Homo sapiens: one gene and its partners. The protein of the gene in region 1 purifies or fractionates together with the protein of each later gene. This does not show direct contact. Each region holds a gene or a part of one and is shown in the gene's direction. Other genes may lie near its edges.

Region 1 (3,651 bases):
GATTTACACACACACACACACACAGCCATCAGGGGCCAACGTCCTTTCACCATTCCTACATGTAGTTTCTACCCTCAAGGTTGCCTCATGGTCCAAAATGGCTTCTGATGCTCCAGCCATCACATCTCAATTCTAGGCAGTAGGAAAGAAAAAGAAGGGAAGGACAAAGTGGCCCCCTTCTTGTCTTTAGCAGCCTTTCTAGAAATCTCACATAATATGTCTATTTCCAATACTTGACTAAGACCCAGTCACATGGCCACTTCTAGCCATAAGGGAGGCTGGGAAGGGTGTTTCAGTTAGCCGCATGGCCACCCTAAATCATTCATGGAGGGGTAAAGTGGATGATCTTTGAGGGTCACTGCCAGCAATCCAGTCCCAACTCCATCTGTAAGTCACGTTTGCCTTAGACAAATCACTTAGCCTCCCAGAACCTCAGCTTCCTCCTGTATAAAATGAGGGTTATAGGAGTTAAGGAACTGACTGTCTTGGTTTCCTGGGACTGAGGGATTTCCCAGTGCATGGGACGATTTGGTCCTCCCCATAGCAGTTCCTACATGCAGGGCTGCTGTTGGAAGAATTCAGCAAGATTGGGTGTGTTCTCCTGCTAGCCTCTGGTAGAGAAGAATTCAGCGAGATTGGGTGTGTTCCCCTGCCAGCCTCTGGTAGATGCCCACTAGATTAGTTTCTCTCCTCTTCAAGAGAGGAGGCGGGGCGCCTGGGGTAAGTGACTCCTGCAGGGTGTGCATGTGTGTGAAGCCTTCCAACACCCGTTCCTCATTCCAGCCCTACCGGATCTTCAACACCTGGCTGGGGGACCCGTCCAAGAACCTGTTGCTGGCTGAGGTCATCAACATCATCAAGCGGGAGGACCTGCTAAATAATGCAGCCCATGCCGGGAAGGCCCTGCTCACAGGACTGCTGGACCTCCAGGTAACACCCCCTCCCCTGCCCCGCCCCCACCACCCATGGCTCCCCGCAGCAGCCTCCGGGGCAACACTGGAGCTCTTCGGCATGGTGTTGTGCCTGCTGTTCCAGCAGTTCGTAACGGGCTGTGCTGCTCCTAGCCTTGGGGGCTTTGCACATGCTGTGTCCTCTGCAGGGGATGCCTCCCTATCCCTCCATCCCATTCCAACCCCTATTCCTGAACTCCTGGTTTTCTTTGTTGTTGTTTTTTTTAATTTATTTTTTATTTTTTTAATATTGAGACATGGTCAAGCTCTGTTAGCCAGTCCGGCCTTGAACTCCTGGCCTCAAACGATCCTTCCACCTCAGCCTCCCAAAGTGCTGGGCAGCGCCTGCCGGCACTGGTTATCTTTCTTATTTATTTTATTTTATTTTATTTGTCTATTTATTTTTTGAGACCAAGTCTTGCTTTGTACCCAGGCTGGAGTGCAGTGGCGCAATCTCAGCTCACCGCAACCGCTGCCTCCTGGGTTCAGGAGATTCTCCGGCCTCAGCCTCCCAAGTAGCTGGGATTACGGGCATGTGCCGTTATGCCCTACTAATTTTTTTGTATTTTGAATAGAGACAGGGTTTCACCATGTTGGCCAGGCTGGTCTCGAACCCCCGACCTCAGGTGATCCGCTTGCCTCAGCCTCCCAAAGTGCTGGGATTTCACGAGCATGGGCCACCGTGCCCGGCCCTGGTTATCTTTTGACACCAATTTCAGACATCCCCCCTTTGAGAGTCCCCCAAGCACTCCCTCTCTCACCCCCTCTAGTGTGTTCATTATTCCCGCCTTTGTGCAACCTGTTGCATACTTACCACTCGGCAGCACTGCCCTCCCCTGCTGGAGCTGGATTACTCTCTACCCTCAAGGTTTCGTCATGGGCCAAAATGGCTCCTGGAGCTCCAGCCATCGCATCTCAATTCCAGGCAATAGGAAGGAAAAAGAAGGGAAGGACAGAGTGGCCCCCTTCTTGTCTTTAGCAGCCTTCCCAGAAATCTCACATAATACTTCTAACACTTGATTAAGAGCTGGTCACGTGGTCACTCCTAACCGTAAGGACGTGTGGGGATGTGTGTGTGTGAGTGTGGCAGGCAGGCCTAAAGGGGTGTCTAAATGGAAGAGACTTTAATCTAAACCATCCCAGGGCCACACTCTGTGGGAGAGGGAGGGGTGTGTTCAAACTGCCAGCTCCCCAGCAATTGACAAGTGCAAGGAACATGCTAGAGTAAGTGCTGGAAGGACTTCTGAGCCTCAGTTTCCTTATCTGTGTAGACCAAAGTGAGCCCTTCTTCACTGGCAGGGGATTCAAGAATGTGCCCACTGCCAGGCACAGGGGCTCATGCCTGTAACCCCAGTACTTAGGGAGGCAGAAGCAGGAGGATTGCCTTCAGCTCAACTGAGTTTGAGACCAGCCCGGGCAACATGGTGAGAACCCATACTCCACAAAAAGAAACAAATTGTGCACATAAGTGTCTAACACGGTGCCCGGCTCTGTCACCCCCAGAATAGGACCATGTCTCCAGTTTCTACCAATGAGCTGCCGTGAAATAAGACTTGCTCCCCCAACTCAGCCCCCAGTACCCTGAAATTATTTGGGGTTTTCCAAGCCCTTGTTTGCTGTCCTTCATATGGACAGCAGAGAGTAAGGTGAAATCAAGGTCCTCCAGACTAGGCACCTGCATTTGTTTCCTTGTCTGCTGTAAAAAATCACCACAAACTGTGTGGGTTAAAACAAGAATTTATTCTCTCACAGTTTGGAGGCCAGGGTCTGAAATCAAGGTTTCAGCAGAGTTGGCTCCTTCTCGAGGCTCTGGGGGAGAATCTGTTCCATGCCCCTCTCCACCTTCTCGTGGCTGCCGGGAATCCTTCATGTTCCTTGACGTGTGGAGGCTTCACTCTGCTTCTGGCGTCACTTGGTGTTCTCCCCACTGTGCCTGTGTCTGTCTCCAGATTGTCTTCTTCTTATAAAGATACCAGTCATTGAGCCGGGCGCTGTGGCTCACACCTGTAATCCCAGCACTTTGGGAGGCCAAGGCAGGTGGATCACTTGAGGTCAGGAGTTCGAAACCAGCCTGGCCTACATTGTGAAACCAGTTTCTACTAAAACTACAAAAAAAAGTTAGCCAGGTGTGATGGCAGGTGCCTGTAATCCCAGGTATTTAGGAGGCTGAAGCACAAGAATCTTTGAACCTGGGAGGCAGAGGATGCAGTGAGCCGAGATAGTGCCACTGCACTCCAGCCAGGGCAACAGAGTGAGACTCCATCTCAAAAAAAAAAAACAAAAAACAAAAAACAGTCATTGCATTAGGGGCCATTCTAATGCAGGAAGACTTCATTTTAACCTAACTAATTATTTCTGCGAAGACCTTATTTCCAAATTAGGTCCTAGTCATAGGTTCCAGGTAAACATGAATTTAGGGGGCAGTGGGAGGAAACTATTCAATCCAGTACAGCTCCCAGTCTCAAAGCCCTGAGGGAGGACAGGCATTTCTTCTTCCAGAAGAACCACCTTTCTAGAAGAGCTGACGATGGAGATGGCTAACATCTGTGGAGCATCCACCAAGTGCCCAGCCCCAGGCTTAGGACTTAACATGTGAACCTTATCGTGCTAAAGTCTCACCACGGCCCCAGTGGGGTCAACAGCATTTAAATCCTTCAGTTTATAGCAGGGTAAACAGAGGCACTTGAGTGGCCCAAGGTTA
Region 2 (3,651 bases), on another chromosome or scaffold:
TTATATGTAGTTCTGTCTTTCAAGTCATTATATGGGGTATGTATGTGTGAGAGAGAGAGAATATGGGAAACTGTTGGAGGTGTTTCTGTTGGTCATCGGGGGACTGTCCCCCATCAGCTGTCCCAGGCAGAGGCAGCTGCTTTGGAGGGAGGCTACTCCTTCTCGCTGGAAGGCTTCCAGCACCAGCAGGCTTGCCTCTTGCCTGTGGTCCTATAAAGGGATGCTGAGACTGTAGGGACTGCACTGATTGACTTTCTGGTTCCCTTTTAGTTGTGAGGTTCTGTGATTCTGTGACATGATTCCCACAGCTGTTTTGAATGATTCGAATGATTCCTGAGGCCTTGATGTTCTTGGGAGATTCATGCATATCTGAATTCTATATTATTCTGCCAAAAATCTTAAGGTTTTGTGGAAAATAGCCACATATTTAAAATTTTAGTATTTTAGTATTCTCATATTTAAAGGCATATAACTATCTTAAATCCTTAGAAATGAGTGTGCTGCATGTTAGGGAGTGAATAAAGACACAGCAACAAAGCAGTTTAATTCAGTGAAGACTCTTTTTTAAAAAGGCAAAATGTGGCTCCTTCTGTTTTGTTCTTATCTGCCTAAGTGGTGAGCCACAGCGCACCTTATTGAATTATGCTCAGATCTGGCCTTTGCTAGCGGGGACAGCTTCCTGCTCTCTCTCTGCTTATCTTTCTGTCTGATCTTTCCATGTAAATAGCACCCTCAGTGCCAGAGGCTCTAGGTTGTCCTGCTGTATGTTTGCGTTTTCCTGGCCAAGGGGGACTGGGCACCTGTTGTTAGAAAGGAGCGACATGAATGACGTGCTTATCTGTGTCCATTGCAGGGTTACCCTGGATACCCCGATGAACAGGAAATCAATGCCTGAGGCTGACTTCAGCTCCTGGACACCCTTAGAATTCCTAGTTGAGTGAGTATTACAGACATGTCCATGACTGAGCAGCTTCCAGCCCCTATTCTCTGCCTGCTGTGGTCCAGAGGACAAGTCTGTGTTCCCTGAGATCGTCAATCCGGGTGGTCTTGGGAGGTCTCTGGGACTCTGAGGATGCATTGCACATCAGACGGAATCTCAGAGTAGCTGGACTTGGAGACAGGCAGCACAGTGGCAGAATGGGTAGTGCCGACATGAATCCTGGCTCGCTCCCTCACCACCGGCCATGCTGAGCACATTATTGACCTGCTGAGGCCTCAGTTTCCCCACCTGTATCATGAGGTCCATCATGCTTGTTAGGATTAAACGTGATAGTGTGCGGCAAGCACTCAACACAGTGTCTGGCCATAACAAGTGCTCAGTGATCCCCAGCTGCAGTTTGTGTCCTTACTGCTGTGATGAGGAGACTCCATGGGGGAGGGGGACACCACGTAGATGGCCTGGGGGCACATATCTGAATCTGTGTCAAGCCACAGACCCACAGAAAGTGCCCTTTAATTTCCGAAATCCTTTTTGCCCATTTGTGAATATGGGTGGCATTTGAACGCTCATGGGACAGAGAGCTGAATTCCTCTTTTGTGTTTGTTTAGGTATCAGTTCCTCAAGCCCCTCTAGTTAGTAAGCATGTGTTCATCGAGCACCCACTATGGGCCAGGTGCTGCCCTCGGCTCTGGGGTCACGGTGAGGACAAAGATGGGATCCCTGCCCACAGGGAGCAGGGGTGCCGAGAGGGTCAAGGTGACAGCCTGACCCAGTAGTGCCTCTGTGTAAACTGCTTTGACGACTGTTTATAAGAGATGTTTGTGAAGTTAGCAGTGTGCTTCTGGCCTGATGTCACAATCTCATTTAAATTAAATCGGGAGAAATTTGGGACTTGCGTTTTATGTTTGAAATGTGTACTTACAGAACACTTTTTATGTCCCAGTCACCATTCTAAGCACTTCATAACTCTTATTTAATGCTCATAGCAAACTCTGAGGGAGGAGCTGTCATTTTTATTTAAGGCTTAGAGACTTGGAGGGATGGCAGGGGCTAAGTCACTCGCCTAAGGTCACACAGCACAGCCGGGATCTGACACAAGTGGTGTGGCTGCAGAACCTATGGTCTTAACTGGTGTGCTGACAGTTATTTCTGTCTATGCCAGGAATCATGCTTCATGCTTGATTTGCAGGAAAAAAATTGAAGTTGTAGAGGAAATCAAGCTTTGAATTGTGTTTGTGTTTGAATTTCTTTTTAAAGGCCGACACTCCCACCACACTTGAGATACTGATCTAAGACCTACTCTAGATGGAACATCTGGGATCTTGTGTCTGAACTCGTGCTGAGCCACAGACCCACAGAGGACGGGCTGTCACAGGCCCCCTTTTGTTCTAGAGATCACATCCACCCATTTGTGGTATTTGAAAACTCTCAGAAAAGCTGGCATAAAGTTTGCTTTGAGATGTCTGTGAGCACATCCTTCCTCTACCATCCCTGGTTAGAATGGCGTTCTCACTCACCTATCCACGCTGCAGATGAGGGTGAAGAAGTAAAACCATTTAAAACATGCATCGCAGCAAACCAACATGGCACATGCATACCTGTGTAGCAAACCTGCACGCTGTGCACATGTAGCCTAGATCTTAAAGTATAAAAAAACAAAACAACAAAAAAACATGTGTAACCAACACACAAAACCCTACACAACCAAACGGCACTGGTCTCTTTCAGAGCCTTCCCTCACCAAGCCCTACCCTGTCCCCAGAGATGAGGCCATGACATGACAGTACTTTAGAGAGTTTTAGCAACGCTTTGTTTTTTGAGCCCATGTGCTCATATGAGCTTGTTCAAACCCCAGAGTAGGGGCCTGAATGACTGGACCTTTACACATCAGCGCTGGCCCAGAAGGTTACAGATTGGCACTGGGAGTCTCCCAGGAAGGAAATGCTGAGCACTTTTTAGTTAATGAAGGTCCGAAGTCTCAGCTGGTGAATTGTCAAAATGGATGATGTACTCAAATGTAAATGTTTTGTGTTAAAGAATTATCATCTACTTCTTGTTTCTTGTGAATTTCTTTTGCCCTTTTTCATTCCTGTCTTCTTAGAGGGTCTTTTTGACTGCTGCAAGTGGGGTCAGTTGCTCCTCTCCTCAGATTTGTGAAAGGCCCTGTTACTGTATTTAACATTTTATTGTAATAGTCTGTTTTTTTCTATCTCTTTTTCCATTGTTTGGTGCAGCTGTGGGTACTCTATAAATGTTTGATTAAAAAAATGCCAAATAAATGAATTGCATCTGTTTCTCTCATAAATTTATGAGAAGGTAATATAGCAAAGTATTGTGCATGTGTCTCTCTCTTTGAATGAACTAATTAAAATCTTTAAAAACAATTTTTTTTTTTTTTGAGACAGGGTCTCACTGGGTCACCCAGGCTGGAGTGCAGTGTCACGATCATGGCTTACCCTAGCCTTGATCTCCGGGGCTCAAGCAATCATCCCACCACAGCCTCCTGAGTAGCTGGGACTACAGGCATGTGCCATGCCCAGCTATTTTTTGTATTTTTTTAGAGGTAGGGTTTCACCCAGTTGCCCAGGCTGGTCTCAAAAACTCCTGGGCTCAAGTGATCCACCTGCCTCAGCCTCCCAAATTGCTGAGATTACAGGTGTGAGCCACCACGCCTGGCCAAATTAGAATCTTTTAAAATCACAAAAGAATTC
Region 3 (3,651 bases), on another chromosome or scaffold:
GCTTTGCTGGCAGGACTGGAGGAGTACAGGGACCTGTAGAACGTGGTCTGGGGCTTCTGGGAGCCTTATTGACTTAGTCAAAGCTCATTGGCTATAGAGTAGGGGGATATACAAAATGGAAAGAGCAAGATAATTTGTTTTAAGGTGTTTTTATTTGCCCTAGTTTTAACAAAACTTTCTTAGACTTATTAGGCATTTTGTACCATTTACTTGACTATTACTGTGATACATTACATGACCACTGCCTTTAGTGTTAATCTTTGCAAAGATCTTTTTGTTTCTACAATTGTAATGCAAGCCTTCTTATAAAATATTCAAACAATATAGAAACAAAATGAGAAGGTGGTATGTGTGGGGTAGGGAGACCATTGCTAGGAGATTTTCTTCATTATGTGCTTTTTTTGTTTTTTACTGTAAAAATTGTGGGAGACTTTTAAGTAGCCTACATATTAAAGCATTTTGAGATGTGTGATAGAGCACTGCTTCTCTGAAATTCTTAAAAATTCTGAAGTTTAGGCTGGGTGTGGTGGCTCATGCCTGTAATCCCAGCACTTTGGGAGGCCGAGGTGGGCGGATCACAAGGTCAGGAGATCGAGACCATCCTGGTTAACACGGTGAAACCCCGTCTCTACTAAAAAAAATACAAAAAATTAGACGGACGTGGTGGCATGCACCTGTAGTCCCAGCTACTTGGGAGGCTGAGGCAGGAGAATCGCTTGAACCCAGGAGGCAGAGGTTGCAGTGAGCTGAGATCACTCCATTGCACTCCAGCCTGGGCGACAAAGCGAGACTCCGTCTCAAAAAAAAAAAAAAAAAATTCTGAAGTTTAATGGTGTGATGGACATTTAGAGGGAAATGGAATACAGTTTTTAAGCTCAGTTTTATAGTCAATTAGTGTTTTATATTACTGTTGCTTAAAAACATTAAGAAAGGTAGATTTAGGAATAAACCTTTTGAGATAAAAAAAATACAGTGCAGTATTTTATTGCATCACTGAAATGGTGACAAGAAAAAGTATGTGATATACAAATTAATCCTGCAGTCTAACTCTTGACACTGTTTGCCTTGAACAACTAAAAACAAAACTCAGTAAATTTGAGATGAGACTTTAAATGCAAAAGCTGAAATGTGATTGGATTAGTATATAAGTGACATTAAAATTCTACATATACATTGGATGTTTTTGCTAAGAGAATTGCAAAGACATCAGTTTTAATATCTATAAATAGCATATTAGTGTGCTGTGAAGAATTACCTAATTTCGTGGTTTACCTCTATAATGTGATTGTTATAAAATACTGCTTTACCCAGCACCTTGGGAAGCCGAGGCGGGTGGATCACCTGAGGTCAGGAGTTCCAGACCAGCCTGACCAACATGGTGAAACCTGGTCTCTACTAAAAATAGAAAATTAGCTGGGCATGGTGGTGCATGCCTGTAATCCCAGCCACTTAGGAGGCTGAGGCAGGAGAGTCGCTTGAACCTGGGAGGAGGAGGTTGCAGTGAGCTGAGATCGCACCATTGCACTCCAGCCTGGGTAACAAGAGCGAAACTCCATCTCAAAAAAAAAAAAAAAACAAAAAAACTGTGTGTGTATATTGCTTTAGTACTTGCTCTGTATTATACAGTATTTACTAGCCATCATTTATTAGTGAAGTATTCCTGTGGTGGTTTATTGTATTTTCAATATAGTCATGCTAGATACAATTTCATATTATACAAGCTTCCTAGATTAAGGTAATGAGTAGTAAATGTATTAAAAATACTATATCACAGAGGTGAAATTAAGAGTTCTTGGCATATTGGCAGAACAAGATACAGGAAGAAACTGAGAAATCTGGTACATTTTTGCCAGACTTTTGCTGTTTTGATGCCGTGCACACAGTAGGCATTTAGTAAAGATCTTTGAATGAACTGAATATATTCTTTTGGTGAACTGGCAAAGCAGTGATCCCCCAACGTAGTGTGTTTGCATGTTGATTTATTTATTTAATAAATATTTGCTGTGTACTTACTAGATGTCAGGCCCTGCTGTGATGGTATGTGCATTCTAGTGGGATAAAACTGTCAAAAAATACATTTTAAAAACCAGGTAATGGTAAGTGCTATGCAGAAAGTTGAAATAGGATAAAGTATTTGATAATACTTCACTGGGTGGCTACATTTTTGTTGTTGTTTTGTTTTGTTTTTGAGATGCAGTCTTACTCTGTAGCCCAAGCTGGAGTGCAGTGGCGCCATCTTGGCTCACTGCAGCCTTCGCCTCTGGGGCTCAAGCGATTCTCCTGCCTCAGCCTCCCAAGTAGCTGGGACTAGAGGTGTGCCCCACCACACCTGGTTAATTTTTTTGTATTTTTAGTAGAGACAGGGTTTCATCATGTTGCCCTGGGTGGTCTTGAACTCCTGAGCTCAGGAGATCTGGGTGGCTACTTTTAAATTTACTAGTCACTGAAGGCCTTTCTGAATAAGGTGACATTTAAGCTGAGAGCTGAGTAAAAATGAGCACTCGAGAATGAAGAGAATGTTTTCTATAGGGAACTGCTAGAGCAAAGACCTTTAAGAATGTGTTTTGGGTACTGAAAAAAAGCCTGCATTGCTAAGGTGATGGGTAAGAGATAAGGGTGAGTTGGGTAAGAGATAAGAGAGTGAGTTAGGCAAGTGAGTTAGGCTAGGGGTTTTCAGGGTAAACTTGGAAACATTTACAAGCAGGACAGAAATCTTTGTTTCTTTGTCTCTGTCTCTCTTTTCTCTTTTTCCCTCCCTTCCTCTCTCCCTTCCTCCCTCCCTTCTTCCCTTCCTCCCTCCCTTCCTCCCTCCTTTCCTCCCTTCTTCCCTCCCTCCCTCCCTTCCCCCTTCCCTCTCCTTTCCTCTCCTTCCCTCCTTTCCTCCCTTCCTTCCCCACTCCTTTCCCTTCCTTCCTTCCCTTCCTTTTTCAACAAGGTCTTGCTCTGTCACCCAGGATAGAGTACAGTGGCATGATCATAGCTCACTGCAGCCCCAAACTCCTGGGCTCAAGTGATCCTCCACCCTAAGCCTCCCCAGTAGCTGGGACTACGGGGGCATGCCACCACGCCCAGCTAATTTTAGTTTTTTTTTGTAGGGATGGGGTCTTGATGTTTTATCCAGGCTGGTCTCCAACTTCTAGCCTCAAGTGATCCTCCTGCCTCAGCCTCCTAAAGTGCTGGGATGACAGGCATGAGCCAGCACACCTAGCCAAGAAATATTTCTTGTAGGATTTTTAAAGGTTACTTTGATGCTGTGGGGTGGGCAAGAGTGAAAAGCAGAGACATCAGTTAGGGGGCTTGTGCAGTAGTTTTAAGTAATTGCAGCTTGAACCAGGGCAGTAGGAGTGGAGATGTAGAGAAGTAGATGGAATTAGGATATGTTTTGAGAGGTACAGTTGGCTGTACCACTTGCTGTGTCACCTCAGGCAAGTTACTCAGTATGTGCCTTTTGGTCCTCTGCTGTAAAATGAGAATACTAGTATGAAAGTACTAACTTATTGGTATATGGGTTTTGAAATAATATTAACAGTGCTTGGCAATGTGGTACCACTCTCCCTCCATTGTTCTTGCTTAGAAAGCCTCAAATGTGATTAAATTCAACTCAGTGTTTGTACTTGCACCTGAGTGGCCAGAGATGCACCTTGTAGCCAC

What was found.
Region 2: the proteins of ABAT (region 1) and QDPR fractionate together in Homo sapiens (co-fractionation; one large-scale study listed by BioGRID). This does not show direct contact.
Region 3: the proteins of ABAT (region 1) and RAD23B fractionate together in Homo sapiens (co-fractionation; one large-scale study listed by BioGRID). This does not show direct contact.

Annotation. Positions count from the first base shown.
Region 1 is NC_000016.10:8,775,561-8,779,211, forward strand, and holds part of ABAT (4-aminobutyrate aminotransferase, mitochondrial isoform 1 precursor), read left to right. Parts: intron 1-783; coding exon 784-930; intron 931-3,651. UniProt on the Homo sapiens protein: Catalyzes the conversion of gamma-aminobutyrate and L-beta-aminoisobutyrate to succinate semialdehyde and methylmalonate semialdehyde, respectively. Can also convert delta-aminovalerate and beta-alanine.
Region 2 is NC_000004.12:17,487,948-17,491,598, reverse strand, and holds part of QDPR (dihydropteridine reductase), read left to right. Parts: intron 1-853; coding exon 854-937; intron 938-3,651. UniProt on the Homo sapiens protein: Catalyzes the conversion of quinonoid dihydrobiopterin into tetrahydrobiopterin.
Region 3 is NC_000009.12:107,286,276-107,289,926, forward strand, and holds part of RAD23B (UV excision repair protein RAD23 homolog B), read left to right. Parts: intron 1-3,651. UniProt on the Homo sapiens protein: Multiubiquitin chain receptor involved in modulation of proteasomal degradation. Binds to polyubiquitin chains.